Regions from separate parts of the Homo sapiens genome. Here regions 2, 3, 4 and 5 are each linked to region 1. Evidence: fine-mapped expression QTL. A gene starts in region 1. Each other region holds a variant in brackets. All regions are shown on one strand. Distances are between the middles of the regions.

The links. PIP is the estimated chance that this variant, and not a neighbour inherited with it, causes the effect.
Region 2: its variant is the best candidate, but not a certain one, in a credible set for the expression of HEY1 in whole blood (INTERVAL, PIP 0.66).
Region 3: its variant is the best candidate, but not a certain one, in a credible set for the expression of HEY1 in whole blood (TOPMed, PIP 0.86).
Region 4: its variant is the best candidate, but not a certain one, in a credible set for the expression of HEY1 in whole blood (GTEx, PIP 0.65).
Region 5: its variant is the best candidate, but not a certain one, in a credible set for the expression of HEY1 in whole blood (INTERVAL, PIP 0.66).

Annotation. Positions count from the first base shown.
Region 1 is chr8:79,764,952-79,771,149 of GRCh38, reverse strand. HEY1 (hes related family bHLH transcription factor with YRPW motif 1) reads left to right here and starts at 3,383. Exons shown (of 5, transcript NM_012258.4): 1 at 3,383-3,575; 2 at 3,856-3,931; 3 at 4,058-4,141; 4 at 4,418-4,499; 5 at 5,379-6,198. The coding sequence starts at 3,487. The coding sequence ends at 5,962. LINC01607 (long intergenic non-protein coding RNA 1607) reads right to left here and starts at 3,008. Exons shown (of 4, transcript NR_125410.1): 1 at 2,932-3,008. It overlaps LOC101927040 (a long non-coding RNA gene), which reads left to right. Exons shown (of 6, transcript NR_110954.1): 6 at 145-1,778. RefSeq lists silencers at 2,211-2,380, 2,481-2,840, 2,881-3,360 and enhancers at 3,811-3,860, 5,447-5,686.
Region 2 is chr8:79,582,725-79,588,922 of GRCh38, reverse strand. No RefSeq gene overlaps it. Among named protein-coding and RNA genes, the nearest start is that of STMN2, 25 kb to the left of the region's middle. The variant T/A (reference allele first, on the strand shown) is at 2,905.
Region 3 is chr8:79,835,860-79,842,057 of GRCh38, reverse strand. All of the region lies in intron 2 of LOC101927040 (a long non-coding RNA gene), which reads left to right. Among named protein-coding and RNA genes, the nearest start is that of LINC01607, 71 kb to the right of the region's middle. The variant C/T (reference allele first, on the strand shown) is at 3,162.
Region 4 is chr8:79,825,437-79,831,634 of GRCh38, reverse strand. All of the region lies in intron 2 of LOC101927040 (a long non-coding RNA gene), which reads left to right. Among named protein-coding and RNA genes, the nearest start is that of LINC01607, 60 kb to the right of the region's middle. The variant G/A (reference allele first, on the strand shown) is at 3,866.
Region 5 is chr8:79,818,598-79,824,795 of GRCh38, reverse strand. LOC101927040 (a long non-coding RNA gene) reads left to right here. Exons shown (of 6, transcript NR_110954.1): 3 at 4,281-4,327. Among named protein-coding and RNA genes, the nearest start is that of LINC01607, 54 kb to the right of the region's middle. The variant G/T (reference allele first, on the strand shown) is at 2,413.

The DNA.
Region 1 (6,198 bases):
TCTTAAGTCCCTTCCAAACTCAGAACAGGCCTTCCCAGACCTCATAAAGAATCCTCACCCCCTCGTTTTTCCTTACCAACAAGTGCTTCCAAGCACTGGAGCATCCATAACTACTTTACTGTGTATTCTCTGTCTTCTCCCTAGGATGTGAGTTCTAGGAGTGCAAGATGGATGACTTTTGGGTCACCTTTGTGTTTTCAGGCCCTAGCACAGCACATGGCACATAGAAGAATACGTATTTATTGGAAGCATTGAAAAATCAGTCAAACTTAAGAAGCAAGACAACCTCATTTGTAATTTTTTTAGAGACAGAGTCTCATTCTGTTACCCAGGCTGGAGTGCTGTGCAATGATCATAGCTCATTGTAGCGTTGACCTCCTGGGCTCAAGCCTCGGCCCCCAGAGTAGCTAGGACACAGGCCACCATGCCCGGTTCATTTTTAAATTTTTTCTAGAGATGGGGATCTTGCCGTGTTGCCCAGTCTGGTCTGGCACTCCTGGCCTCACGCAAACCTCCCACCTCAGCTTTCTACGAAGCTAGGACTACAGGTGCATGCCATGCCTGGCTAATTTTTAATTTTCTTTTTTAAGAAATGGGGATCTTGCTATGTTGCCCAGGCTGATCTGGAGCTCCTGGACTCAAGCAATCCTCCTGCCTCAGCCTCTCAAAGTGTTAGGATTACAGGTGTGAGCCACTGCGCCTGGCCGTAGAGAACCTCCTTTTTGACATAAAAGTAATCATGAACATGTGAGCAATATTTCATTTGGATGCCAATGTAGAGTTAAGCATCCCTAACCCCACCCGGTCTCGTCTCACTCAACATCTGCAGCTTGTCCACGCCTCTCCACAGCAGCAGAAATGAGCCAAAGCAGGAAAGGCTGACTCATTGTAGGTGCCAGAGGCTGGGAAAATCTATAGAGCCAGAGGGGAAGTAGACACGTTGGTTCTGGGGAAGGGTGGCCTGTCACTTTGGGGAAAGAAATGGAAGGTCAGAGGGACTTCTGGAAGGCAGAGGGGAGCAGGTGGGATGGTTTCCTATGCCTGGACCATCAGTTTCTGGGAGGGAAGAGGCAGGAAGTAGTGATGGATGCCCTGGACTGAAGACTGGGAGGGCCAGGAAGGAGCCTTAAAATTTGCACTTCCAGAGAGAAAGTCGGCTGGTGGGATTGACCTCGGACTGACAACTAACAGGCAGCATGCGGTGGAGTTTCAGGAAGCCAGAGGTCTGGGGTGCCAGCAGCAACAAACCCAGGCTGGCTGATGGAAGGGCCCAGCCTAGACAGGGAAGCAGAGGGGCTGCATGGAAAGGCTCAGGGCTGGAGGTGATGTGAAGTGGAATAAGCTTCAGTGGGAGCCAGGAGGTTGTATTTCCCGTTGGGGGCGGTGGTGGAGGGATGGGGGTGCCCAGAGAGGAACTATGGATTAGGCCCAGGCCGGCCACTCAGAGTGCTTGGCATCCAGGATGTGTTAAGATGGCATTGAGGCCGAGCGCGGTGGCTTAGGCCTGTAATCCCAGTACTTTGGGAGGCCAAGGCAGGCGGATCACCTTTGGTCAGGAGTTTGAGACAAGCCTGGCCAACATGGTGAAACCTCGTTTCTACTAAAAATACCAAAAACAATTAGCTGAGCATGGTGGCGCGCGTCTGTAATCCCAGCTTCTGGGGAGGCCGAGGCAGGAGAATTGCTTCAACCCGGGAGGCGGAGGTTGCAGTGAGCCGAGATCGCGCCACTGCACTCCAGCCTGGGCGACAGAGTGAGACACCATCTCAAAAAAAAAATAGCATTGAGATCAATAAGGAAGTCTAGAAACCAGGAAGCTTTTTGCAAAGAGAAAACGCCTTTTGTTATTCTCACCGATGGATATTAAGCTTTCCCTCACAGACAGGACTACAAGCTTCAGAGTGGATCTGAGATGAATGCGAATTGCTGTGTACCTTTGTAAGGGACAGAAGACCGGATTTTCAAATTTAAAACAACCATTCTGTTTCTGGAATCAGAAATCAGTTTCGAGATTTACAACTGTATTTTTTAAAAAATCTGTCTTCTTAGTGGACTCGGGGGGGACTTCACGTGGCACCCAGTACACGCCACGCCAAGCCACCGAAGCCAGAGGTGTGTGTCTGGGGCCAGAGACGTGCATTCCCTCAGCAAGGCCGGCCTCAGACGCAAACGCCAGCACCGCCACCCTGTCGCCCGCTGAGAGGATCTGGCCGCCGGGGGGAGGGGGCGGGGGGGGGGGCAGCGGGGGAACAACAAAAAAATCCCAGCATAATGATTATTCCCAGGGACCGTTGGGTTTTTTTTTCCCCAAGGCGGCCGAAAAAACAAGTGCTCCCCTTCCCCGGAAATGAGATGCACAGGGGTATTCATTCCATTCCGCGGCTGGGAAGCCCCTGCGGAAACGAGTCTGGCTGCATGTGCGGCCTCGGTCCCAGAAATCAAAAAGAGCGTCCCCTGAGCCCACAGCTTGCTCCTCCATGTGACCGGCCCCTGGGCTGGTGGCCACTGTGGACGCGCCCGGCGCCCCCTCTCCCGGCTCCCTGCGGGTTCCGCGGAGCCGCCGGCGCGCAGCCCGGCCAGGTGCACCCGGCACGGCCCCACTAACAGCGCGCGCCTCCAGCCGCCGGGCACTGGCGGCCACGCGGGCGAGATTTACGGTGGCGCTAGGCGGCGGCTTCCGAGGCCGGCCGGCGCCCAGGCTCCGATTACAGGTTCACACTGGGGGCCCGGCCGGCGGCCGCCCAGCCCCCGCCGGCGCGCCCTCGCGCGGCCCGGCTCCCCGCCTGCCCATTCTTCTCCATTCATGCGGACGCCCAGCGCCGCCGCCGCCGCCGCCAGCGCGGCCGCCGCCGTCGCCGTCGCCGGCCGCCCGGATTGGCTGGCGGCCGCGGCGCCGGCACTTTCCCACGGCCCGCGGCGCGTGCGGCTCACCGGAGGCGCTGCAGGCTCGGCCCTGGCGCGCGGCCAGGCCAATCGGGGCGCGCGGGGCGGGGAGGAGCCGCGGCCGCCGGCGGGCTTGTGTCCCGGCCCGGCCTCCCGCGCCTCCCCGCCGCCCGCGCCTCCTCCTTCCCCTGAGTGCAGGCTGGACAGAGCCCCCGCGGAGCCGACGCACCGCCGCCGGGCAGGGGCGGGCGCGGAGGGCGGGGGCGCGGTCCGCTAGAGCCCTCGGCCTCGCTCCCGCCCCTCCCCGGAGCGGCTGCCAATCAGCGGCGCGAGAAACCGGATTGGCCGGGGGGCGGCTGTTGCCCTGGAGTTGCCGCCCCGCCTCTCCGCCCCCTCGCCCGCCTTCCCCACTCCCCCGCCCTCCCCAGGGCCCTGGGAAGGGGCTCAGCGTGGGAAAGGATGGTTGAGTTTTAACCAGAGGCAAAGCGTGAGCGGGATCAGTGTGTGCGGAACGCAAGCAGCCGAGAGCGGAGAGGCGCCGCTGTAGTTAACTCCTCCCTGCCCGCCGCGCCGACCCTCCCCAGGAACCCCCAGGGAGCCAGCATGAAGCGAGCTCACCCCGAGTACAGCTCCTCGGACAGCGAGCTGGACGAGACCATCGAGGTGGAGAAGGAGAGTGCGGACGAGAATGGGTGAGCTGGCGGCGGCGGAGCGGAGCCGAGCCAGAGCGGGAGGCGAGCGCAGGCCTGCCGCGGTGACAGCGGGCTAGGACCCTTGGCGCGCCGGTGCCCTGCGCTGACCTCCGCGCGTCGCAGGCTGGCGGCAGCCTGCGGCCAGGGAACCCCTAGGTGCCTTCCAGCCCAAGTGGCAAAAAAAGTCTGAGTGCGGGGAGGGTGTGGGGGCGACCTCTCAGATCACCTCTCCTCGTTTAACGGCGATTTCAGTTTTTGTTTGTTCTTTTTCTCTTTTCAGAAACTTGAGTTCGGCTCTAGGTTCCATGTCCCCAACTACATCTTCCCAGATTTTGGCCAGAAAAAGACGGAGAGGAGTGAGTCTCTTTACACTCTCCTTTTATTTTTGTTATTGATTAACGGAAATAACCACCTTTTTTTTTGTCTTTGAAATTTACAGTCGTAATGGTAATGCCTTCCTTTGTTTTGCTTGCCTTCTGCAGATAATTGAGAAGCGCCGACGAGACCGGATCAATAACAGTTTGTCTGAGCTGAGAAGGCTGGTACCCAGTGCTTTTGAGAAGCAGGTAATGGAGCAAGTAGGTAAAGCTCTCAGCATAGCTATCTGCACCTTCTGAATCTTCCCCTCATTAATCTCATCCGCCTTGGAAAATAGCTGTGTTGCTTGTGCCTAGATGAATTCGTACACAGATACCAGCGTATTTTGTGAAGACAACTGATTTTGCTTTAGTCCATGCTTTACGATTTACAAAGCATGTATCTTTGTATATATGTTTGCATATTTTAAATTGTTCCCCAAAGGAACTTGTGCCAAATCAATCTTTTGCCATTCTCATCTTTAGGGATCTGCTAAGCTAGAAAAAGCCGAGATCCTGCAGATGACCGTGGATCACCTGAAAATGCTGCATACGGCAGGAGGGAAAGGTACATCTCCTAGACCTAGTGGGGGCTCTGAATGGTTGGCAAAGAGTGAGCAGCGGCTGAAGGCCAGGATTGGTGCAGTAGCTGCCTGATTTTTCTTTGGGGGTGGGGAGAGAACGGTGTGTGGTGTGTGCAGTTCCCTGTCAGTACATTTTCGAATGCACATAGAATCTTCTCCAGTGAATTCACCACCCCAGCTCTCTGCGGATTGAGCTAGTGCATCTTTTGGAAAAATACCTATTATTTGTGAGGTCTTCAAAAGTTGTGACAGCCCTGATTCAGATCAGGTAGCTTTCACATTTGTCCATTGCTATTTTGAGAAAAAGCATTTAAAAACAATATGTGGTCTTATTTTTGGTATACGGGATTTTAAAAAAAAGGTGCTGCCACATGCCTCTTGAGGAAAGAAATGTATTCTGGTTAAGTAAAGGAAACCTAACGGGAGACCAAGGTCTGTGTGTATGTCTCTCCAGCAGGAAAATGCTTTACTGAGGTCCAAGTGCCTAAAAGCTCCGCGATGATAACTTACATCTGTGTGTCTAATGAATTTCACTGCTCTGTGGTTTCTCTGCCCTTGATGTATTTTTTGTTGTTGTTGAGGGAAAACATTAAAGGAATGAACATAGTTTCATCTGCTGGTAGGGTATAATTCCAATTTCTGCTCTGCAGCTTCTAATTGGGCTTTGAACTTGCATTAGCAAACACATTCTGCTTATGTTGATTAATGCAAAGATTTTTGTTGATTCCAAAGACTTTCGGAAGAACCCCTGACTGTTGTGTTTTAAGGGATGCAGGTATCTGCCAGGAAGGGCTGTCTCTGGGACTTAAGAAATGAGGGAAACGGGCAAAGCCCTGAGATTTTTCTTTTGTTCTTTTGCTTAGGTTACTTTGACGCGCACGCCCTTGCTATGGACTATCGGAGTTTGGGATTTCGGGAATGCCTGGCAGAAGTTGCGCGTTATCTGAGCATCATTGAAGGACTAGATGCCTCTGACCCGCTTCGAGTTCGACTGGTTTCGCATCTCAACAACTACGCTTCCCAGCGGGAAGCCGCGAGCGGCGCCCACGCGGGCCTCGGACACATTCCCTGGGGGACCGTCTTCGGACATCACCCGCACATCGCGCACCCGCTGTTGCTGCCCCAGAACGGCCACGGGAACGCGGGCACCACGGCCTCACCCACGGAACCGCACCACCAGGGCAGGCTGGGCTCGGCACATCCGGAGGCGCCTGCTTTGCGAGCGCCCCCTAGCGGCAGCCTCGGACCGGTGCTCCCTGTGGTCACCTCCGCCTCCAAACTGTCGCCGCCTCTGCTCTCCTCAGTGGCCTCCCTGTCGGCCTTCCCCTTCTCTTTCGGCTCCTTCCACTTACTGTCTCCCAATGCACTGAGCCCTTCAGCACCCACGCAGGCTGCAAACCTTGGCAAGCCCTATAGACCTTGGGGGACGGAGATCGGAGCTTTTTAAAGAACTGATGTAGAATGAGGGAGGGGAAAGTTTAAAATCCCAGCTGGGCTGGACTGTTGCCAACATCACCTTAAAGTCGTCAGTAAAAGTAAAAAGGAAAAAGGTACACTTTCAGATAATTTTTTTTTTAAAGACTAAAGGTTTGTTGGTTTACTTTTATCTTTTTTAATGTTTTTTTCATCATGTCATGTATTAGCAGTTTTTAAAAACTAGTTGTTAAATTTTGTTCAAGACAT
Region 2 (6,198 bases), 180 kb after region 1:
GTTACTACTTTTTGTGTGTTGATTTTGTATATTAAAACTTTACAAAATTAGTTTATTAGTTCCAATAATTTTTCAGTGAAGTCTTTAGGATTTTCTATATATAAAATAATGTCATTTCCAAACAGAGACAATTTTATTTATTTCCTTTCAATTTGGATGCATTTTATCTTTTTCTTGCTTCCTTATTCTGGCTAAGACTTCCACTACTATGTTAAATAGAAGTGGTGAGAGTGAGTATTCTTGTCTTGTTCCTGATATTAGAGGAAAACCTTCCCACTTTGTGCCACTGATTCTGATGATAGCTATGAGCTTGTCATATGTAGCTTTAATATATGCAGGAACACTCCTTCTATATCTAATTTGTTGACAGTTTGCATCATGAAAGGCTGTTGAGTTTTGTCAAATGCTTTTCCTGCGTCTGTTGAGATAATCATATGATTTTTGTCCTTCATCCTATTAATATAGTGTATCACATATATTGATTTGCATGCATTGTACCATGTACCATCCTTGCATCCCAGAAATAAGTCCCACTTGGTCAGAGTGTATAATCCTTTTATGGGCTGTTGAATTTGGTTTGCTAGTATTTTGTTGAGTATGTTTGCATTTATGCTTATCATCAGGAATATTGGTCTGTAATTTTCTTTTCTGTCTTTCTCTGGCTTTGGTATTAGGATAATGCTGGTCTGGTGATATGATTAATTCAACTTTTTGATTATATACTTTTATTGCTTTTCTCTTACATGGATATTTTATTGCTTAATAATATTAAGTTTTACTTGTAATATTAATTTATGTAATGATATTAAAATATTAATTTTAATACAATATTAAATTTAGGTGAAATCAAATATTAAATTATTAATGGAATGATTAAATTTTAGGTGAAATCAAATTTTACTTAACATTAAATTTAATTATATATTTGCATTATTCTAATATGTATAGAATATCAAAATAAAATTAACAATGTTATGATTAATGATTAGGCTGCTGTTAAGATTTCTTGCAAACTCTATGAAATATATTATATTCCACTAAATATAAAAAATAGAAATACTATGTAAAGAATTTTTTTGTGCCATGCTGGTGCACTGCACCCACTAACTCGTCATCTATCATTAGGTATATCTCCCAGTGCTATCCCTCCCCCCTCCCCCCACCCCACCACAGTCCCCAGAGTGTGATATTCCCCTTCCTGTGTCCATGTGATCTCATTGTTCAATTCCCACCTATGAGTGAGAATGGCACATGTATACATATGTAACTAACCTGCACAATGTGCACATGTACCCTAAAACTTAAAGTATAATAAAAAAAAGAATTTTTTTGTGTTTATATCTCTAATTTGATAAACAATTAGCTTGTTTTTGCTTTGTTTTCATATTTTAGGGCTTTTGGTTCAATTGCAATTCCTTGTATTCTCTTTCTTTTCTCTTTTTATAGCTACTCATTTTTTATAACCAGTTGTTGGTTAGTAAAAAAATTCCCTTTACAAATGTAATTTGCTAAATAAATGCAAATTCTTTTTCTTATATAAAGATAGCACATTATATAAGCTATTCTGCATTTTTTCATTTAATAGTATATCCTAGAGAATATTTCATATCAGTGTATAGCATTCTTCTTTATTCCTTTTTATGGCTATATAGTATTAGTTTACCATAATTTATTTAGCCAGTCTCTATTAATGGACATTTGAATTATTTCCAGTTAAGTATTAAAATTATTCTATGGTGAATAATCTTGTGCATAAAACACTTCATAGTTTTACTTTTTTTTGGGCAGATTCCTAGAAATGAAATTGCTGAGTCAAAAAGAGAATGTATAAGTAATTTTTCTAGATATTGTCAAATCCCCCTCTATTTATATTACACTTTTGCATTTCCAACTCATGTGGTTGCTCCATGACAATTAAATAATATATTGTCTAATTTTTGGATTTTTGCAATTCTTATAGGTGCGAAGTGATCTCTTAATTAAATTTTAATTTGTGAGTTAGGTTGATTATCTTCTCATGTGTTCCATTTCTTCTGTGTTCTGTTTGTCCACATCTTTTACCCATGTTTCTATGTACCATAGAAATATCCCTTTGTCTGTGACATAAATTGCATGTATTTTTTCTTAGTTTGTCCTTTGTCTTTGTTTATAATCTTTTTTTATACCAATTTTTAATTTCTTATTTAGTGTAGTCAGACTTTACTTCTTTTATTGCTTCTAAATTTTGAACTAGGAATATATTTCCAACTCTCAGGTTATAAAAAAAATTTATTCTCATTTATTTTTCTATTGTATGGTTTTAAAAATTTTTACATTTTTGATCTTTGATCTATTTGTTTTCAGTTTGAAATGAAGATTTAGTTTTATCTTTTTTTTCTCAAGCATCATTTTAAAGCATCCATTTTTTACTCACTGATTTTTGTTTTGTTTTGTTTTGAGATGGGGTTTCACTGAGTTGCCCAGGCTGGCCTTAAATTCTTGGGCTGAAGGAATCCTCCTACCTCAGCCTCCTGAGTAGCTGGGACTACAGGTGCATGCCACTGTGCCTACGTTTCCCTCACTGATTTAGAATGCCACTTCTGTCCTAGAAAATGATGTACTTTTCAAGTTCAAAAGTTCATACAAACATTTCGGTTATCAGAGCTAGATGTTGTTTTTAATATTTGACAGACACGAACTGCCTTCGTTTTAAATAGTGTCAACCCAAACTCATCCTTGAATTTTCTATAAATATTTCATGGTAGCTCTTATTTAAATGCAAATATATTAAAAACAGAAGTAAAATTTCCAGATATTATCATATGTCATGCTACAAACATGTATAAGACACAGACTCTGTAATTAGGATCTTATAGCTTAATGAGAGAAAGAGATATACAATGAGATTATTTCAATGTATTTTTC[T/A]ATATACAGGTTATTATTGGTTTATGCACAGAATCTGCAAAGATACATATATGGATATGGATTCTGCAAAAACAAGATGGAAGAAACTATGCAGGTAAAACAAAATGATTGTGCTTCTTTTATGTCTACACTTTGATATTATTAGCGTTGTCCTAATTCTTATTTTCAAGATAGACCTAAAAGACTAGCAAATCAAGCTGAGTAGATTAAGCACAACATACAAATATGGAGGGGTAAAATTACTTGTGCAGAAGGCAGGGCACAAGGATAATAAATTCTTAAAATTCTGGTGAAGAAGGAATTCTGCCCTTCACATTTAAGGCCAGGGTACTGTGTGAAATTAGAGAAACTTTGAATTCTCTTTATATTTAGTGCCTAAAAGTTCAACCACTTAGGAAGAGGTTTCCTCCCTTTGGTGAATCACCACCTCCAGCATTGACAATGCCAGATTAGATGGAACACTTTCAACCCTGGGGTTAGGTATTCTTGCTTCTGCCTAAGGTTTTTGATTTTAATTGACTCCACTGCTCCCTCTCTCAGGGTTTAAAAAGACTCTTATTACTGGGAAAAGAGTCGTTTTAATTTTCCACTAAGAAGGTTAATTAAACATCAGTTTTGGTTCTTTCCTGCTTGGTGTTTGAGTGACAAGAACTTTTCCTCAGATGTCAAAAGCTGAAGAAATGATCTAGAGGACGGATTCCTGGGACAAAGACATACGAACTTGTGTCCTCAACACAGAAGCTTTTCAGGGAGAGTGGCAGACAAACGTATTTCTCCTTCAGAACTATCTCAATCCTAGGCTAGTGGTGTATGTTGCAATGCTACCCTGGGGAGAGAGGTGTTAGAAAGCTGTGTTAAAAAGATGTCTTAGCTAACAGCCTTATGTGATAAATAGCATGCCATTTTTCAATCAATGTCATTTCTAAATCCTGTAAGGAGATCATTTGTCGGAGTGGTTATTTGACAATTCATATATCATTTTGATCCATTTCTGACCCCTAGGTTTGGTCAAATGGACTTAAAGATTTAATTAAGAAAAAAATACGACTTTTAGCTGTTTTTTTGGAGTTTGAATGGAGTGTTCATATGAATTCTCAGGTCTGTATGTGTATTAGTCTGTTCTCACACTGCTATGAAGAAATGCCAGAGACTAGGTAATTATAAAGGAAAGAGGTTTAATTGACTCACATTTTCACATTGCTAGGGAAGCCTCAGGAAACTTACAATCAGGTGGAAGGGGAAGGAGAAGAAGGCACCTTTTTTTCACAGGGCAGCAGGATGAAGTGAGTGCAAGCAGGGGAAATGCCAGATGCTTATAAAACCATTAGATCTCATAAGACTCACTTATTATCACAAGAACAGCATAGAGGAAACTGCACCCATGATTCAATTACCTCCACCTGCTCCCTGCCCTTGATATGTGGGGATTATTACAATTCAAGGTGAGATTTGGGTGGGAACACAGAACCAAATCATATCACTCCACTTTTGGTCCCTCCCAAATCTCATGTCCTCACATTTCAAAACACAATCATGCCCTTCCAACAGTCCCCCAAAGTCTTAACATTCCAGTATTAGCCCCAACCTCAAAGTCCGAAGTCTTATCTGAGACAAGTCCCTTCTGCCTTTTAGCCTGTAAAATCAAAAGCAAGTTAGTTACTTCCTAGATACGATGGAAGTACAGGCATTGGGTAAATACACCCATTCCAAATCGGATAAATTGGACAAAATGAAGGGGCTACAGGTCCCATCAAGTCTGGAATCCAATAGGGCCCTCATTAAACCTTAAAATTCCTAAATGATCTCCTTTGATTCCATGTCTCACATTCAGGACTCCCACAACCTTGGACAGCTCCACCCCTGTGGCTTTGCAGGGTCCAGGACCCCTCCCAGCTGCTTCCATGGGCTGGCATTGAGTGTCTGCAGCTTTTTCAGGTTCACGATGCAAGCCGTAAGTGGACCTACCATTCTGGGATCTGGATGATGGTGGCCATATTCTCACAGCTCCACTAGACAATGCCCCAATGGGGAATCTGTGTGGGGACTCCAACCCCACATTTTCCTTCTGCACTGCCCTAGCAGAGGTTCTCTATGAGGGCTTCATCCCGGCAGCAAACTTTTGCCTGGACATCCAGGCTCAACACCACATGTAAGCTCCCAAGGCTTGGGGCCTGCACCCCCTGAAGTGATGGCTCCAGTTGTACATTGGCCCCATTTAGCCAGAGCTGGAGCTGAAGCAGCTAGGATGCAGGGCACCATGTTCCAAGGCTGCACAGAGCAGGTGGGAACTGGGCCTGGCCTAGGAAACCATTTTTTCTTCCTAGGCCTCCTTCCATTTTTCTAGCCTTCCCTCCAGGCCTCCAGGCTGCTGTGATGTTCTCTGACATGCCCTGGAGACATTTTCTCCATTGTCCTGTTGATTAACATTTGGTTTCTCATTACTTATGCAAATTTCTGCAGTGGGCTTGAATTTCTACCCAAAAAATGGATTTTTCTTTTCTATTGTATTGTCAGGTTGCAAAATTTTTCAAACTTTTCTGTTCTGTTCTTCTTCTTGAATGCTTTGCTGCTTAGAAATTTCTTCTGCCAGATACCCTAAATCATCTCTCTCAAGTTCAAAGTTCCACAGATTGCTAAGGCAGGGGCAAAATGCTGCCAGTCTCTTTGCTAAAGCATAGCAAGAGTCACTTTTACTCCAGTTCCCAAGAAGTTCATCATCTCCATCTGAGACTACCTCAGCCTGGACTTCATTGCCCATATAACTATCAGTGTCTTGGTCAAAACCATTCAACAAGTTTCCAGGAAGTTCCAACTTTCCCATATTTTCTTGTCTTCTTCTGAGCCCTCCAAACTTTTCCAACCTCTGTCTGTTACCCAGTTCCAAAGTTGCTTCTGCATTTTTGGGTATCCTTATAGGAGCGTCCCACTCCTGGTACCAATATACTGTATTAGTCTGTTTTCACACTGCTATGAAGAAATATCTGAGACTGGGTAATTTATAAAGGAAAAAGGTTTAATTGACTCACAGTTCTGCATTGCTGGGGAGGCCTCAGGAAAATCATGGCAGAAGGCAAAAGAGAAGGAGGCACCGTCTTCACAGTACAGCAGAATGGAGTGAGTACAAGCAGGAAAAATGCCAGTTGCTTATAAAACCATCATATCTTGTGAGAACTCACTCACTTATTATGAGAGCAGCATGGGGGAAACTGCCCTCATGATCCAATTACCTCCACCTGGTCCTGCCCTTGATACATGGGGATTATTACAATTCAAGGTGGGATTTGGGTGGGGATA
Region 3 (6,198 bases), 71 kb before region 1:
TTAATCCCAATCCAAGTACCTGGATATTTCCATTGAAGGTGCCGTATTTACTCACCCCTTTCGTTCCTCTCCATGAAAGCCTCTCCATGAGAGCCTCTCTGTAGCTGGTTCTAGCCAGCCATCTTGGCCCTGAGTGTCTACCTTTTGTCTTGCTTAATCCTCACACAATCCTCTGAGATAAATATTTACTATTACTAACTCCATTTTACAAACAAGGAAATGGAGACTCAGAGAGGTCAAATTACTTGCTTAAAATCACACAGTCATTGCTGTAACCAAATGTGAACCTAGGTCTGTCTGACTCTCAAGGCCTATTGATTCTGAGTCATCTTCCTCTATACAGCTGGAAGCAAGAAACCAGGACCATCCCTACAAGTTTGTCTTAGTGCATTTGAGCTACTATAAGAAATTACCATACCCTGCGTGGCTTATAAATGACAGAAATTTATTTCTCACAGTTCTATAGGTTAGAAAATTCAAGATCAAGGTGCTGGCAGATTCAGTGTCTGGTGAGAGCCCTCTTTCTGGTTCATAGATGGCATCTTCTCACTGTGTCCTCACATGGCAAAAGAATGAGGGAGTTCCCTGGAGTCTTTTATAAGGGCACTAATTCTATTTGTGAGGGCTCCACCCTCATGAACTCATCATCTCCCCAAAATCCCAGCTCCAAATATCATCACATTGGTGATTAGGTTTCAACACTTGAATTTTGGTCTATAGCAATGTTTATGTCCCAAATCCTCTTAACTGTCATTTTTTCCCCCAGTCTCTTCCTTCTAGAACGCCTCTGTTTTGAAGCTTGATCTTATCTAGAAATTAATATTGAATTGCTTAACTAAAATTTATTCATGTCAGGTAGGTTTTTAACATAGTGTTTTACAAGCTGAAGGTCACAACCGATTAATGGGTCATGAAATTAATTTAAAGTATGACACCGGCATTTAAAAAAGAATAGAACAGAAAATATTTCTATTCCTATGCCTATTTATATGCATATCCATTGCATGTAGGAAAGGGTTAGTACTGTTATACACGTGTGTATTTGTGCACTGGGTCATGACATAGAATGTTATTCCTATTCTGGGTTATGGTCAGAAAAAGATTCCTTACTCATTACCAAATTGTCTTTCATAAATAGCCCAAGCCATTTTTCGGAATATATATTTTTAAAAATGTATTTTAAACAAAATATACAATGCCCGTGGGATGAAAATCCCTCATAGGCTGACTCCTGCTACCTTGTATAGTCTTATTCCAAGCCATTTTTGTCCATAAATACTTTCTATTTTAGCTCTACCAAATTAATTTTACAAAAAACTTTATTGAGTAATAATTTGTATCCAATAAAATGCACTTATTCCAGGTGCTTAGTGTGATATGTTTTGTATACATCAGTTTAACTACCATCATAATTAATACACACAACACTTTCATCACCCTAAAAGACTCCTGTGTGCCCCTACCTGCCAACCCCAGCCCCAAGCAACCCTTGAACTGCTTTCTATAACAATGAAGTAGTTTTGCCTTTTCTAGAATTTTATACATATAATATATATAATGTTTTTGTGTGAATTTGTTCACTTAATATGATGCTTTTGAGATGACAATGTTCTGACATGTATCTGTAGATATTCTTCTCATTGATGAATAGCAGTCTATTGCATGAATGTAGCACAACTTGCTTATTATTCTGAAGGTAGATGTTTGGCTTGTCTCCAGTTTTTAGCTATTATTAACAAATGAACATTTGGGTAAAATAATTTGTGTAACATATATTTCACTGTGGGTGGAAAATATCCAGGCGTATAATTGCTGGGTTGTATGGTAGCTGTATGTTTAACTGTGTAAGAAATTGCCAACCTGTTTTTCAAAGTGGTTATGCTATTTTACATTCCCAGTAGTGATGCATGACTGTTCTAGTTGCTCTATATCCTCACCAACACTTGGTTATATAAAACTTTAAAATTTTTAGCGATTCTAATAGGTGTGTGGTGGTTTCTCATTGTGGTTTTAATTTCCATTGTCTGATGACTAAGAATATTGAGCATCTTTTTATATACTCATTGGCCATTTGTTTATTTTCTTTTGTGAAGTTTCTGTACAAATCTTTTGCCCATTTTTTGCCTGTTTATTATTAAGTTGTGTTTATATGTTCTGAATAGCAGTCCTTTGTTAGATACATGCATTGCAAATATTTCCTTCTGGTCTTTGGCCTGTCAATTCATTTTCTTGTTGGTGTCTTTTGAAGAGCAAACATTTTGAATCTTAGTGAAGAAAATTGTATCATTTTTTATGGTGCTTTTTGTGTCCTCAGAAATCTTTGCCTATCCCAAGGTTATGAAGGTTTTCTCCTAGACATTTTATAGTTTTAGACTTTATATTTTGATCTATGATTATGATTGATTTCTAGTTAATTTTTTGTGTATGGCAGGAATTTTGGATTGAGGTTCATTCTTTCTCATATGTATATACAGTTGTTTTTGCACCATTTGTTGAAAAGTCTACTTTTATTCCCATTGAATTATTCTTATACTTTGTCAATAATTAATTACCCATACATGTGTAAGTCTGTTTCTGGGTTTTCTTTCTTTTCCAAGCATCTATATATCTGTTCTTACACCAGCACCATACTGTCTTGATTACTGTAGATTTATGATAAGTCTTGAAATCAAGTAGTATAAGTCCGCTAACTTTGCTCTTCTTTTTAAATATTGTTTTGGCCATCCTAGGACCTTTCCATTTCCATATAAATTTAGAATCTATTTGTCAGTTTTTACCAAAAACCTGCCAATATTTTACCTGGAGTAACTGATCTGAACCTGTAGATCATTAGGGGAGAATTGATGCTTTAATAATACTGATCATTCAGTTAATAAACAGGGGATATACCTTGATTAATTTAGCTCTTTACTTTCTCTTTTTTTTTTTTTTTTTTGAGATGGAATCTCACTCTGTCACCCAGGCTGGAGTGCAGTGGCACAATCTCAGCTCACTGCAACCTCCGCCTCCCAGGTTCAAGCGATTCTCCTGCCTCAGCCCCACGAGTAGCTGGGAGTACAGGCATGTGCCACCATACCTGGCTAAATTTTGTATTTTTAGTAGAGATGGGGTTTCATCATGTTGGTCAGGCTGGTCTCGAACTCCCAACTTCAAGTGGTCTG[C/T]CTGCCTCAGCCTCCCAAAGTGCTGGACTTACAGGCGTGAGCCATGGTGTACCAGGCCTTTACTTTCTCTTGGGCATGTTTTATAGTTTTCGGAATACAGATATTGCACTTATTATATTTATCCCTAAATATTTCATTTTTACACAATTATAAATGGTAAGAAAACATTTTCACTTTGTGATTTTTTAATAGACATTATGTTTTAGCACAGTTTTACATTGACAGCAAAATTAAGCAGAACGTACAGAGATTTCTTATACATCCCCTGCTCCCACATACACACGGCCACACTACTTTCAAATTCCCACACCAGAATGGTAATGATAAAATCAATGAGCCTACAGTGACACATTACCACCACACAAAATCCATAGTTTATTAGGATTCACTCTTGGTGTTGTACATTCTGTGGGTTTTGACACATGTATAATGATATGTATTCACCACTATGGAATTATACAAAACAGTTTCACTGCCCTAAAGATCCTCTGTGTCCTGCCCATTCATCCTTCCCTCCTCCCTAATTCCTGGCAACCACTGATTGTTTTACTGTCTCCATAGTTTTGCTTTTTCCAGAATATCTTATAGTCAGAATCATACAACTTGTAGCATTTTTGACTGGCTTTCACTTGGTAACATGCATTTAAGTTTCCTCCATATCTTTTCATGGTTTAATAGCTCATTTCTTTTTAGTATTTCATAATACTTCATGGTCAGAATATACCACAGTCCACCCACTTACCTACTGAAGAACATCTTGGTTACTTTCAAGTTTGGGCAATTATAAATAAATCTGTTATAAACATTCATATGTAAGTTTTGGCTTAGACATAGGTTTTCAACTCATTTGGAAGCACAATTGCCAAAATCATATGGTAAGATTTTGTAAGTTTTGTAAGAAACTGCCAAACTATCTTTTAAATTAGCTGTACCATTTTGTATTCCTACCAACAGTGAATGAGAGTTCCTGTTGCTCCACGTCCTCACCAGCATTTGATGTCGTCAATGTTTTGGATTTTGGCCATTCTAATAAGTGTGTGATGGTATCCTGTTGTTTTAATTTGTAATTTCCTAATGATATAGGATGTTGTGCATTTTTTTCATATGCTTATTTGCCACCTGTTTATATCTTCTTTGGTGAGGTGTCCAGGTATTTTGTCTATTTTAAATCAGGTTTTTAAAATCATTGAATTTTAAGAGTTCTTTGTATGTTTTAGATAACAGTGTTTTATTAGTGTTTCATAAATATTTTCTCCTAGTCTGTGGCTTGTCTTCTCATTTTCTTGACAGTACCTTTCAGAGAAGAGGCTTTTAATTTTAATGAAGTCCAGCTTTATCTATCTATCTATCTATCTATCTATCTATCTATCTATCTATCTATCAATCATCTAGTCATCCAGATGGGGTCTCATTATGTTTTCTGGGCTGGTCTCAAATTCTCAAATGATCCTCCTGCCTTGGACTCCTAGTGTTGGGACTACAGGCATAAGCCCCTGTGTCCAGCCTTATCAATTTATTATTTCAAGGATTATGCCAATTTTTTTTGCTAGTGTATAAAAATATGCAATTGATTTTAATATATTATCTTACTATACTCAGTTATCAGCTCTTTTATTATTTATTTTATAACATTTTTGTAGAGTCCTTGGGAATCTAGACAACACAATCATGTCATGTGCAAATAACAAGTTTTACTTCTTCCTTTACAGTCTGCATGGCTCTCATTTTTTTTGCTTTTGTCTTATTGCATTGGCTAAAACCTACAGTACAATATTGACTAGAAGTGGTGAAAAAAGACATCCTTCCATTGTTCTAAACCTTAGGAGAAACACATTCAGTCTTTCGCCATTAAATATATCGTTAGCTCTAGATTTTTTTGTAGACATCTTTCATCAGGTTGAGGAATGTCCTTTCTATTCTTAGTTTCTTGCGATTTTCTTTTTTTAATCAGGAATAAGTGTGGAATTTTGTCAAGGGATGATTGTCATTTTTCTTTTTTGATTTGTTAATATAGTAAATTATATTGACTGATTTTCAAATGTCAAAACAACCTTGCATTCCTAAGAAAAATCCCACTTGGTCATGATGCATTATCCTCTTTATACATTGCTGGATTCCATTTGCTAATATTTTGTTACAGGTATTTGTGTCTATGCTCATGAGAATATTAATCTGTAACACTTTGTGTGTGTGATATCTGTCTTATTTCAGTGTCAGGGTAATTCTGGACTCATAAAATAGTTGTAAATGTTATCTCCTTTTTTATTTTCTAAAAAGTTCATTGTTTGTATACAACGGTTATAATTTCTTTCTTAGATATTTGGTAGAATTACTAATGGAGCCATCTCGACCTGGGGTTTTACTTTGGGGAAAATTTGTAAATATTAATTCCATTTCTTTAATAGATATAGAATGTTTTACATTAACTATTTCTTCTTCAGTGAGCTGTGATAGTTTGTGTCTTTCAAGGACTTTGTCTATTTCACTGAAGCTGTGAAATTTATAGGCATAATATTGTTCATAATATTCCATGATTATCTTTTAATGTCTGTAGAGTCTGCTCATACTTTCATTCTTGACATTGGTAATTTTTGTCATCTCTTTTCCCTGTTTAGTTTCATGAAAGGTTCTTCAATTTAATTGATCATTTCAAAGAACTAGCTTTTCATTTATTTTTATTTATTCATTTATTTTTTTTTGAGATGAAGTCTTGCTCTGTCACCCAGGCTGGAGTGCAGTGGTGCCATCTTGGCTCACTGCAACCTCCGCATCCTGGGTTCAAGCAATTCTCATGCCTCAACCTCCTGAGTAGCCGGGATTACAGGTGCACACCACCACACCCAGCTAATTTTTTTTTTTTTTTTTAGTAGAGATGGGGTTTTGCCATGTTGGCCAGGCTGGTCTCGAACTCCTGACCTCAGGTGATCCGCCCGCCTCGGCCTCCCAAAGTGCTGGGATTACAGGTGTGAGCAACCACGCCTGGCCTAGCTTTTGATTTTATTTTCTCTATTGCTTTTGTGTTTTTGATTTCCTTGAT
Region 4 (6,198 bases), 60 kb before region 1:
CAGGCGAACCCGAGCATCTTTCTGACTCCTGTGCTGTCATTAACATGCTTCTTAATTCAGAACAGCTGTTCCTCCTCCCACTCCTCCTCTCTCCCAATCTTTGCTCCTTAGACAAACTTTGCTTATTCAGAAACTTTGGGAAAAAAGATTTTTGAGTAAATGAGAGTTCTGGAAACATAAGGATTTGTCTCTTTCAGCATGGACTTTTTAATTTTAAACATTTTTGATGAAAATCTTTCCAAAATACATTGTTTAGTACCTTCTTAAACAGAGAAAATGGATGAAATTTAATTTTTTTCTTGATGCCTTGGGATCATGACAGTGAACAAGATTTTGTTACTCTGCTGCAATGCAATAGGGCACATAAAGGGTCCCAAATTTTCAGATTCTGAAGTTATTTTGAAAACTTTTAAATATACTCTCGTCTCCCTGCTTTTCATCAGTCCATTGACCAATCACTCTGGTTATCAATGCACCTATTTCCAGAAATTCTTCTACCCTAATTTTCTGATGTTCAGTGTTTACTGTGAGCATAGAAGACCAATATAGACACACACTTACACGTGTGTGCATGCAGATGTGCATTAGAACTGTGTGTAGAGAGGTTTGAGGAGGTACCTGAGAGTTTCCTATGAGTAAATGGAATATGTTATGAGTTCTCTGTTTTGGTTTTCCAGAGACTGCTTTTGTTAAATTTTTTGCTCATTTTAGGAATAGAAAGTTGCAAGACAAATGAGTTTAATAATGATGAAAAGCTCCCAGATTTCTAGGAGCTATCTATCTTTCTAGAAAGTTCTTCCTCGGTTCATTTTTTTTTTTTTTTTCACTTAATGCAAGTATAGGCAATGGTTACTAAAAGGAGATTCCTTTTATGAGAGGCTTGTCATTTCATTATCCCAACTTCACATACAAATGATTTCATTATCTTTAAAAATGTTGTCGTGATATTCTCAAACTATTGTCATTTAAAAAAAAAACCCACCAGGTGCAAAAACAAACTGCAACCACAACAGCTAAATCTGTCTCTTTCTCTCATTGTCCTCTTTGGCAAAGATCTGTGGAAAGCTGAATAAATGAACAGGGCCATTTGACAGAGTGTAACCCACACCAGACCTGTTGTGCAATGCCTTGAACGTAAGTCCTTTTCAACTAAACGGAGGTATATTTTCTTTTATATTGTTGACTTTGACCCTGAAGCTTAGCAAAGAACACTTGTGCAACATTTTCTGGATCAATTTATCATCTGCTCAGAGCAGACATGCATTTTTTCTCATCATTAAAGGGAAACCAAACCCATCAACATAATCCCCGATTCTGCTTTGTTTCTTCCCAGTCCTTCACATTGTAGATTCTGAAATATTAATGAAGAGATGTGAAAGTAATGTGCTCTATTCTCACACCCAGCCCCAGTGGGAGGAAGGATATGGCCAGGGAGTAGGAGAATGAGAAATGTCCTCGTTTTGCAAAACAACGTTGCTCAAAGTCAGGTTGTTGGATTCTATCTCTGAATATCCCAAGGTGGTGATCTAAAATCCAGATTTCTGGGCTAATCTATACCTATGGAATCAATATTTCTGGAGGATGAGGCTTTGTCATTTACATTTTAAATGGATGCATTTAAAACTGATTGGACTAGATGGTGTCCGAGCTTTTTCCTTACTTAACAAATCCTATGCTGCTGGCTCTTATGTGAATACTGATAATAAACTGCTTACAGGCTGGGCATCATGGATCATGCCTGTAATCCCAGCTATTTGGGAGGCCAAGGCAGGAGGATCGCTTGAGCTCAGGAGGTTGAGACCAGCTTGGGCAACATAGTGAGAACCTGTTTCTATGTAAAAAAATTAAATTTAAAAATGTACTTACAGAATACTCATAATGAACTTTATTATTGTAAGAATAATAACTTTTGACTGTATAGCAGCATTTTTAACTTTTCAAAGTGTTTTCCTATTTTCCTATATATAACCCCCCAGAGGGGGGCAGGGGAGGTCTCATTACCTCCATTTTAGAGATGTAATAAAGTCCCCGAAGCTTAATGACTTGTGCCAACTACATCATAACTTAGTGGTCAGGAGTCAGGACTGGCACACAGGTCTTCTGACCTCATTTCACTGTACATTTGGTGTTCTAAGATCCAAGACACAAGAGGATGCTTTATTAAAGTGTCCTTTAAAAACGGACTTGAGCCGAAATCAGCGCCTTCCAAGCTTCTCCACATGCTGTTGAGTGTGCTGTGCATTTGCTCCTGAGAGACGAAAGCACAGATAAAGATGCCCTGCACACTGGGAGAGAAATGGGAATCTTCAAAACAAAGGAATCTCATTCCTCTTCTGTTCATCCCCTTCAATTTTCTGATCCTTTCCCTCCACTCCCTCTTTCTTGTAAAGACTTAAACTCTGAAATAATTATATGAAATTAAGTCGGTAAAAGCCAGGCTCGTTTCCTTAAGATTGATGTGTTAACATTTGGGGCAGTTTTCTCAGGACTCAGGGAGACGATTATTTCTGAGGTTGGCTGCGGGAAGCTTCCTCTTCTCTAGGGAGGGGTGAGGTTCCCTCCCAGGACACCTCCCTCCGTGACACAGCCTAACTGTTAGCAGAAGTTCATAAAAAAAGTTGGTTGATTTTTTTAAGTGCTGGAGACTTTTCTCCTTTTAATTCCGGTCATAACTACCCACTGTCCAAAAAAAGGAGACACAGCAGGCTCTAAACTCTCTCTGAGACTGAATGCAAATTGAGTGTCTGGGAGTCTGAGGGAGGTGCGGGAAACACTTTCCAGCTCCACTGTCCTGTTTTTATCTGTAGATCAAGATAAGCGAGCGGGTGGATTGTTAGCAAAAAGGAATCTCTTCATGCAAATTATAATTCTCTTAAAAAAAAATAAGCATGAAGGTGTGACCCTGCCTGTCACTTATCAATCTGTGCAGTAAAACTAATGGAAGGTTGGAAGACTGGGATCCTTTGCATTGGAAAATGGCTTGAGTGCCCGTGCTGAAGCCACGCTGAATTTCCCGTGTTCCTGCAGCAGCCTGGGAGGAGACCGGCAGGGTCACATTCTGGTGGTGCCTGCCTGCCCTGACACATCATTTCTAATTATGATGCCTTTGTAAACCCCTTCCCTTTTGCTTCATAGGGCTTGTAAAAGGTACCCGCAAACCTCTGCCTTCCTGTGCCTCTCTGCCCCGAGGTAGAAATCCTCCTCTTGCAGGAAGTGCAAAGCAAAGTTCAAAGCTTTCTTAGTCAAAAGAAAGTGCGCCTGATCCAGGATAACATGATTAGGCAACAATTAGACCAGAAAAAAAAAAAAAAAAAAAAAAGCCAGGGCCCTGCATCACTGGCCAGTGCTGGCCTTCTGCAATCTCTGCTCTTCTAAAAGATACTTATTATTTCCTTGTTCAGTATGAAGATGCAAACCCAAATTGAATACCATTTAGGGTCAAAGCCACAAGCAGCTTTGGGCTGTCAAGGGATGGAGAGCTCTGATGAGTCTGTGATGGAATGTCCCCACCAAACACAGAGGCTAAGGGATGGAGCTTAAGAGAGGGATGACAAAGAAAGGAAGCAAGGGTCCACAGACCCAGGGCAGGCCCTGTCGCTCTGGTGACTTTCTGAATGACTGCCAGACTTGTTTCCCCCCTATAAGACAAGCCCAGTTCAACCCACGTTAAAAGGGGGTTAAAAGAGGTCATAAATCTTTCTGGGCACTGAAGATCCATGGAAAACGTGGCCTGATGTCTCTGACATCTGTTTTGGGTTCTCAGCCTCAGCTGGCCCCACTGCCCTTTCTCCTGCGATGACTCACAGGCCCCATTCAGGCCACCGAGTGGCAGGTATAGAGTGTCTCACCTCGGAGTACTGGGGAT[G/A]AGGGGTGAGCGTCCGGGCAGCAGGCGAGCCCCCAAGGCTGGCCCGCTGACACCGTAAGTCTATACCCAGGGGCTGGTGGAGGGGAGGCTGTGGGATTGATGGTGTAAATGGGCAGCACACACAGCCTGCAGAGGGGAGGCCGGCGGTGGGTGGGAGAGCGCTGGCTGAGGTTGGTCACACGGAGATTGAATTTCAGCTGAATTAGATCAGAGCTGTGGGAAACAGCACCTCCTTCACACACACAGCCGGTCTCATAGGAAGATGTGGGAGGGCGGCTGGGGAGACAGAGGCAGGCAGCTGCGATGAAATACCGAAGTCCGCTCACAGCAGCTAACAGCTAACTTAATTACTCTACTACCTCTCCCCAGCGCACTGGCCAGAATTCGCAGACCCTAGGGTTTTAGACTGAAACGCTCCATGGTGCCAGGGAAAGATGGGGTGGTCAGCATTTAAAACACACCATGGTTTGGGAGTGAGGCTGCGTGTCTCTCTAAAGGAGGAAAAGCGTGATTATGAAAGTACAGGAAAGGCAGGGAACTTTTAGATCCACAGCTGCAGAAGGCAAACTCCGGAAAGGACTTACGTGGCTTTCACTGCTACCTTTAGGGTTTGATGTTTTATAGCATTTTATTAACATGCAACGCAAGCTCTCAATACCGTAACTGTGTTCGCTGCTGCTGCTAGGAACTGTTCCTCTAATCCCCTTTCTCTGCTTAATAACCTGACGCCATTTCAGTGACCCAGAATACCAGCTTTTCTTGGGAGGCCTTGGAGGAGTGGAAAATTGGGAGAAAGTTTTAGAATTAAAATGGGAACACTTGCAGTCCTATTAAAAAGGGCAAGAAGTCAGCTGCTTTGAAATCCACCCCCTCAGCAGGGGTGGGGAAAGCCTTTCCAGGAGACAGTGGGAACACATTTGTTCCCTAAGCTGGCACCAGAGTGGCTTTCTCCAGGGCAGCCAGGGCCTGGCATTCTGTATACGCCATTTGAATCAGGGAGCCTTCAAATGATCCTTTTTTCTCTTCCTGTCACTCAACAACAGGCTGGCGGCAAAAATTTCTACGGCAGTTTCTCTTGAACCAGGCAGAAAACAACCCCTGAGGCTGCTCGGTGCTCCCTAGTCTCCTGGTTTGCATTGCACATCCATTTTGAGCCTGCTGCTACTGATGAGAAAATGACCTCAAACAACTGCCCACTAAAGGTCCCATGTTGTGACGATGCCGGGGGCTTTCTGCATAGCGCTCCGCTTCTCAGACTGAGCAGCTTCTGGAGTTTTGTACAATGCCTGGGCCTGAGGAAACCTGCCAGGATATTCCTGGTAGGATGAATGATCACCCCCCCGTAACAGACAGAGACACCCAGAGCAGAGACAGAGTTCACACTGTGGGATCTGACTCAATGTTTGAATTCTTAGGAGCTCACCACTTCATTGGATTTCTCATGACTGAAAAAAAGAGACCACTAGAATCTGGATGAGATGAGAATTTAGGTGCTGTTTTAGATTCCCCTAGATTAGGTGGATACCCAAAAGAGTGTGTGGAAAAACTGCAGGGAGGGCCGGGCGCGGTGGCTCATCCCTGTAATCCCAGCACTTCAGGAGGACGAGGCAGGCGGATCATCTGAGGTCAGGAGTTCGAGACCAGCCTGACCAACATGGAGAAACCCTATCTCTACTAAAAATACAAAAGTACCCGGGCATGGTGGCACATGCCTGTAATCCCAGCTACTCTGGAAGGCTGAGGCAGGAGAATCGCTTGAACCCAGGAGGTGGAGGTTGCAGTGAGCCAAGATCGCACCACTGCACTCCAGCCTGGGCAACAAGAGTGAAACTTGGTCTCAAAAAAAAAAAAAAAAAAAAAAACCTGCAGGGAGTCTGAGTCCTCTGAAATGGGATGAAAAATTTATATGTAAAAATTGTGTATATTTCCTCCAGCCCCAGGAAGAGAGCCCTGTGTATTCTGTTGGACAGATCTGCTGATTTTCAAGTTTCCAAGACTCCTCCAGACTTAAGAAGTACTGTTTTATATTAAATATTTTGCAAAGGTAATTTTAAGAGGGAGCATTGGTTTCCCTCAATCACAGGCTCTGCAAAATACAATGCGCTGTCTACTGTATACTTTGCCACATGGAGCCTGGCTGCTTGACTCATGTAACTCAACGTAAACAGTAACTGGGAGAGGACACACACGAGCAGGCAGGGTATGCCCACAGGGTCGCTGCTTGACATGGCTATGCTGCGGCTAGCGTATGGCTCTCCCTTGGATGGATCTATTCTGTTAATACCTCTGTCCCAGAATTTGTAGTCCCAAAGTGGTGCTCTGGGAGGACGTAT
Region 5 (6,198 bases), 54 kb before region 1:
TTCAACCCAGGAGACAGAGGTTGCAGTGAGCCAAGATTACGCCATTGCATTCTAGCCTGGGCAACAAGAGCGGAAACTCCATCTCAAAAAAAGAAAAGAAAAGAAAATCCAGTGTTGATGAGTTGATTTCCCAAAGCAGATGAACTGGGAAGTTGGGTGTGGTGATTATTTACATTAAATAGTAGCTACTGGTGGTCGGCGTGGTGGCTTACACCTGTAATCCCAGCACTTTGGGAGGCCAAGGTGGGCAGATCACGAGGTCAGGAGATCAAGACCATCCTGGCTAACACGGTGAAACCCCGACGCTACTAAAAATACAAAAAAAATTAGCCGGGCGTGGTGGCGGGCGCCTGTAGTCCCAGCTACTCGGGAGGCTGAGGCAGGATAATGGCGTGAATCCGGGAGGCGGAGCTTGCAGTGAGCTGAGATTGCGTCACTGCACTCCAGCCTGGGTGACAGATCGAGACACTATCACACACACACACACAAAAAAAAAAAAAAAAAAATTAAATAAATAGTAGCTACTGGCTGGGCACGGTGGCTCACACCTGTAATCCCAGCACCATGGGAGATGGAGGTGGCTGATTGCTTGAGGCCAGGAGTTCAAGACCAGCCTGGGCAACATGGTAAAACCCTGTCTCTACAAAAAACAAAACAAAACAAAAATTAGCCAGGCATGGTGGTGTGCACCTATAGTCCCAGCTACTCAGGAGGCTAAGATGGGAGGATCACTTGAGCCTAAGGAGGCTGAAGCTGCAGTGAGCTCTGATCGTGCCACTGCACTCTAGTCTAGATGACAGAGTGAGACCTTGTCTCAAAAAAAAAAAGGAAAAGAAAAGAAAAAAAGTAGCGTAGCTACCACTGATGCAGGACCCACATGAGCAGAGATTTATATACTTTATCTCGAGCAATTCTTCTGACAACACAGTGAAATGGGTACTATTTCCCCCATTTTTCAGATGAGGAACTTAAGGTTTAGAGAGCTTAAGCTCCTTCCTGAGGATTACTTTTCTACCAAGTGCCAGAGAGAACCAGCACTGAAAGCCAGATCAGTCTACCTCCAAAGACTATGCTCTTAAATTCTCCATTAGTCAGCTCCTCAGTGCAGTGGGATTTGATGCTTTACCAGAAATATCAAGACCCTAAATGCATCTTAAACACAATTTGATTTTCAAAGGTAGAAAAAAAAAGGAATGAAGTTTGACCAAGTGCCTATTGTATCCAGATAGTATGTCAGGGGATATGACTATGTCATTTGGTAAAAAATTAAATTTTATAAAATATTCAATTCTTGTGGAATATTTTCAAAATACACTTGTCAGTTAAAGTTAGGTACACACATGCAAATCATCCCCCTCAAGTAGTCTCACAAACTAGCCAAAACTTTCCCAGGGCAGAGGGCAGATTTTGCTCCCTATTTTATCCCCTTTGTGCATGGAATATTTGTCTTAGGCTGATAAATAATTAATAAATTAGTGCATAAAAATATGAACCTATTTTGAGGACAGCTATCAGAAAGCCTTATTTCTTAAAATGGAAGTGGCTCACCCTGGCAACCAGACATGGAGATATGGGGATTGCTCAATATACACCCAAAGTAGGTCTTATGCAGAAGACTAAGAAAGATGAGAGCGAAAATAAGACAAGGATATGGAGATATTGTTTTTGAAACTTGAAAAACTATAGTTTGTTTTTCTAATGTTTAATTGTTCCTATTCAGATTGGGGAAATTAAAAGCTCTTACTAGTTCAAAGTTTTACCCGATGAACATTACACCTACCCCTTTCAGAGATCTCAATGAATGAGTCTGTCTGTGATTTTTTTCAGCACTGTGATCCAAAAGATATCCAAACATAACATCCCCCTCCTACCCCAGCCCCCTCAGTGCATGTGTGTTTGGTAAACGTTAATGTGCCTGGGGTCTTTGGTATTGGGAAGTTAACATTCATTTTTTTGGCTGGAAATGCAAATAGTTCATCAAAATGTAATGCTTTTGGTGAACCAGAGATTGAAAGAATGAACCAATTCTGAGGACAGTAATCATGGACTTGATTTGCAGCTTAAGAAAGGTCATTTCTGCTGAGTAGTATCCTGAAGCAAATACTACCAAGGGACGCTATGGACTTTCTAGACTCGATATTCTTAAAACTATGGATAAACATACCTCTTGAGAAATGCAGGTATTCACATGCTTAAAGAGAGGTTTGGTACGTATGCTATCTTTTTTTTTTTTTTTCTTGAGACAGGGTCTTACTTTATTGCCTAGACTGGAGTGTAGTGGCACAGTCATAGCTCACTGCAGCCTCAGCCTCCCTAAGTGTTGAGATTACAGATGTAAGCCACTGTGCCTGGCCTGCCGATACTATCTTAAGGGTGCTTGCAGGCCTCTGGTGTGGTCAGATCTCATGGGTT[G/T]TAAAGTCATAAATAAGTTAACTGCTCCATGTTTCTAGCTGAATCTCTGTCTGCCCTTATGTCTTTAGGCCAATAGCAGAGAGCGGTAGCCTTGGGAAGAGGAAATAATCACTGGGCTCAGAGTTCTTCACTGCCTGCTCCACACATTACAATTCAGTATCCCAATTAGATTGTTCCAGGGACACTCCCTCCCTTCTTTCCTTCCTTCCACTGACTCATTCATCCATTCATTCAACAAACATTGATGGAGCCCCTCCTATGGCCTTATAGCAGCCCCCATCCGGTGAGAGGAAACACACAAGTAAGCCCTTAGAGTCCAGTGTGCAATCGAGGGTTAGAGCTGTGCACAGCTTTTGGAAGAGCAGAGTGGAGGGACACCTGGCTGTTGGCAGTCAGGGACAAGGAGATTTTCCTAGAGGAAGGGAGCTTGAGCTGAGCCTTTAAACTCTTTTTTTTTTTTTTTTTTTTGAGACAGATTCTCACTCTGTTGCCCAGACTGGGGTATAGTGGTGCCATCTCGGCTCACCCCAACCTCTGCCTCCTCAGCCTCCTGAATAATTGGGATTACAGTCATGCGCCACTACCGCCCAGCTAATTTTTGTATTTTTGGTAGAGACAGGGTTCACCATGTTGGCCAGCCTGGTCTTGAACTCCTGACCTCAAATGATCCACCCACCTCGGCTTCCTAAAGTGTTGGGATTACAGGCGTTAGCCACTGCACCCAGCCTGAGCTGAGCCTTTAAGAATACAAGAAAAGTTTGCTAGGAAGAAAAGAAATGGTAAAGCTGTCCAGGCTCTCACACCATGTGTGAAAGCATGGGTGTCGGGGTAGAGAGGAGAAGTAGGCAGGGGAAATTGTGGCAGAGGCCAAGAAGGGAAGTAACCCTGCTTGGACTCCAGGCTGTGTGCAGAGCTATGATGGGAGATAAGGTCAGATAAGAATAACAATTGCTAACATTTATTGAACACCTGCTATTTTCCAGGCACTGTTCTAATGGATTTATGTGTTTTCACTTAGTTAATCATGGCAACAGCCTTATGAGGTGTATATAAATATTACTACTGTTTTTCAGATTCACAGGGAGATCAAGTATTTTGCCCAAGAGCACACAGCTAGAGAGTGGAGAAGTCCGGATTCAACCCAGACAGATTGACTCCAGAGCGTGTGCTATTCGTGGCTATGCCAGAATGCCCTGATGGCCTCAGGTTTGCCTTGCCAACTGACAAAGGCGACTGTTTCCTACCCATTGGCTCAGGTTAGAGGTTACCATGACTGTGGAGACAGTTTTCTCGTGCCATTCTCTCCTTCCTTAGACCACAGGGAATGAAGCTGCACACACTGTTTAATACAGAAAGCCAACATAGAGGGTAGGAACCGTATTGGTTTTATTCATCAATGTAAATTCAGTACCAAGCCCAGTGCCTGGTACACAGTAAGCACTCACTGAATATTTATGGAAGAAACAACAAATGAATTCACTGATTTTTATCTATTAATTATATGGAAGTGAATTCAGACTTCTTCAGGGTTATGCTTAGCTTTACTTTTGAGATGTAAACTAAGAAAAACGAGATTCCACTAAAACCTTGTCACATATATATATTTGGAAATCTGTGAAATGGTCAACCCCAAACCAAAATTTACATAAGATTAACTTATTACTTTCAAATTTACAACCGATGGATTGTGGTGTGTGTGTGTGTGTATGCGTGTGTTCCATTTGTAGCATGTGTAGTTGCTTTATCTAATATGTACATTCTCTAATTCACAGATGGTTCCAGCTTCCTACCCTTCCAGTTAAAATAAACAAAAACGAGGGTCTTGAGTGTCTATGATTTTCATAAGATCTATGGCGTTTCTTCTGCAGATGATCAACAGTTGCCTGCCTTGGACTTTGGAGTTCCCAAGAACTAGGTAGGTAATGGAATTAGGTCACACTGACATCCAGTGATGGAATTTGCCCAGTGACATTAATGCATCGATTGCTTCCTATATATTTCAGTGTCATAAACAAAGTTTCTCTTTCCTTTTCAAGAAGAAAAGAGCATGGTGGAAACAGAGAAGTGTGTCTTTTGTTTGGTCAGCAAGGCAGGAAAGGCCTTGTGTGCTCTGTCCGTCAACACTGATAAGCTGTGACATCGGGAGGCTGGGAGGATCCCCAGCTGTTCCACCTACACTGGGTCCCAGGGCGCGTGATCCTGCTCAGGAAGCAAGGGGAGCTCAAACAGGGAAAGATGAGCACCATGAACACAAATAGTCTACTCGGAGTTTCTTAAATTATTTGAGTATCCATATATTTGACTTCAAGAGACCTTTATTTTCTGGGGTTCTTCCTTGTAGCTCAAAGAGTATGTGTTTTGAACATTTCATGTGGTGCAGCCCCTCTACAAAAGCCTTCCTCCAAAAGAGTCAAAATCTTAAGGAATCTAGCAAAACTAGAACAAGATGCATCATAATTGGTTTCTATAAATTAAGAAACAATTGATTTTTAATTTCTTAAGTATATTTGTGGTTAAGTATAATGGTATTTGATTTCTTAAGTATATTTGTGGTTAAGTATAATAGTATTTGGTGCATTTTATTCCATTGTGAAGAGTGTTAATGATTATAACTAACAAGTTTTATGTGCTTTACAATTTCAAATGCCTCCTACAAAGTTTATATTTGTTCATTTGGTTCTCTTTAGCCCTCTCTGAAATGAAGAAAACTATTACTATCCTACTTTTACAGATGAGGAGACTGGAGTTCAGGGAACATACTAGGCTAAGGGTTTTGCCTTAGAGGCAGCCTGTGAAAAGTAAAGGAGCAAGAAGTTGAACCTAGTTCAAGTTCCAAAACCCATTCTCCTCTTATCCACTCAATGGATAAATCAAGAAAAGTGAGAAACTTATTCTTGAATGTCCAACACAGGCTAGGTAATTTTACACATACGATTTCATTTAGAAACTACAAGTCAGGTACTATTATCAGGGATAGAGAAATTAAGATTCCAAGAGGACCAATAACTTAACAAATGCTTGGTAAATGATTGAGCCCTTTTAGTGAAAAATAACAGGTAATTCTAGGAAAAAAGATGTTCTTGAACTAGATCAGCTTACTGAAATTTGTTAGGAGTGCAACCCTAGGCAGAATATCTCACAAAAGGAAGCTTATGTGTAAAAAGTGGAGTTCGGTTGGGTTTTTTTTTTTTTTTTTTCTATTCTGAGGAATATTTTCTTTTCCTTTTCAGAAAATCCAGGTCAGGAACTGTATCTTTGCTCAGCCACCTGCAAACAGACTTGAGAACAATGTAAACCACCCTCTGCAGGATATTGATTCTGATGGAGTAAATGTTGATTAAGCAGAATGGTGTTTTTTTTTTTAACTGGAGGAATTCCAGATCTTTCCTTAGGCCTGTCTCTCCAGGGAAATGAGCTCTAGCCTTAAAAATCTACAGAAAACCTGAGTAAGAATGAAGATTTATGATGGGAGACGCTGGGCGGAAGACGGCTGGCTATCTGGTGGGCTATCTAGAAGCTCATCTTTGTGTTATTAGAGAAACACTCCCGCTCTTGACAGGATATGGTCTGCTTATCACATAATCTTCTCAAGTTTCATTCCCATTCTGCTTACAAATGCCCCAAATATAAAGAGATGCATTTCATCAAGACAGCCTTTTAAGAGGCAGTTGATCCCAGCTGTTGCCGTCTATCTTAAACACCTACCTTTTCACCCTAGTGTGGAGTTTACATGTCGATAAGCGATGTAAAAAAGGGAACTTGAGAAATCTCAGCAGAGGAAAAACA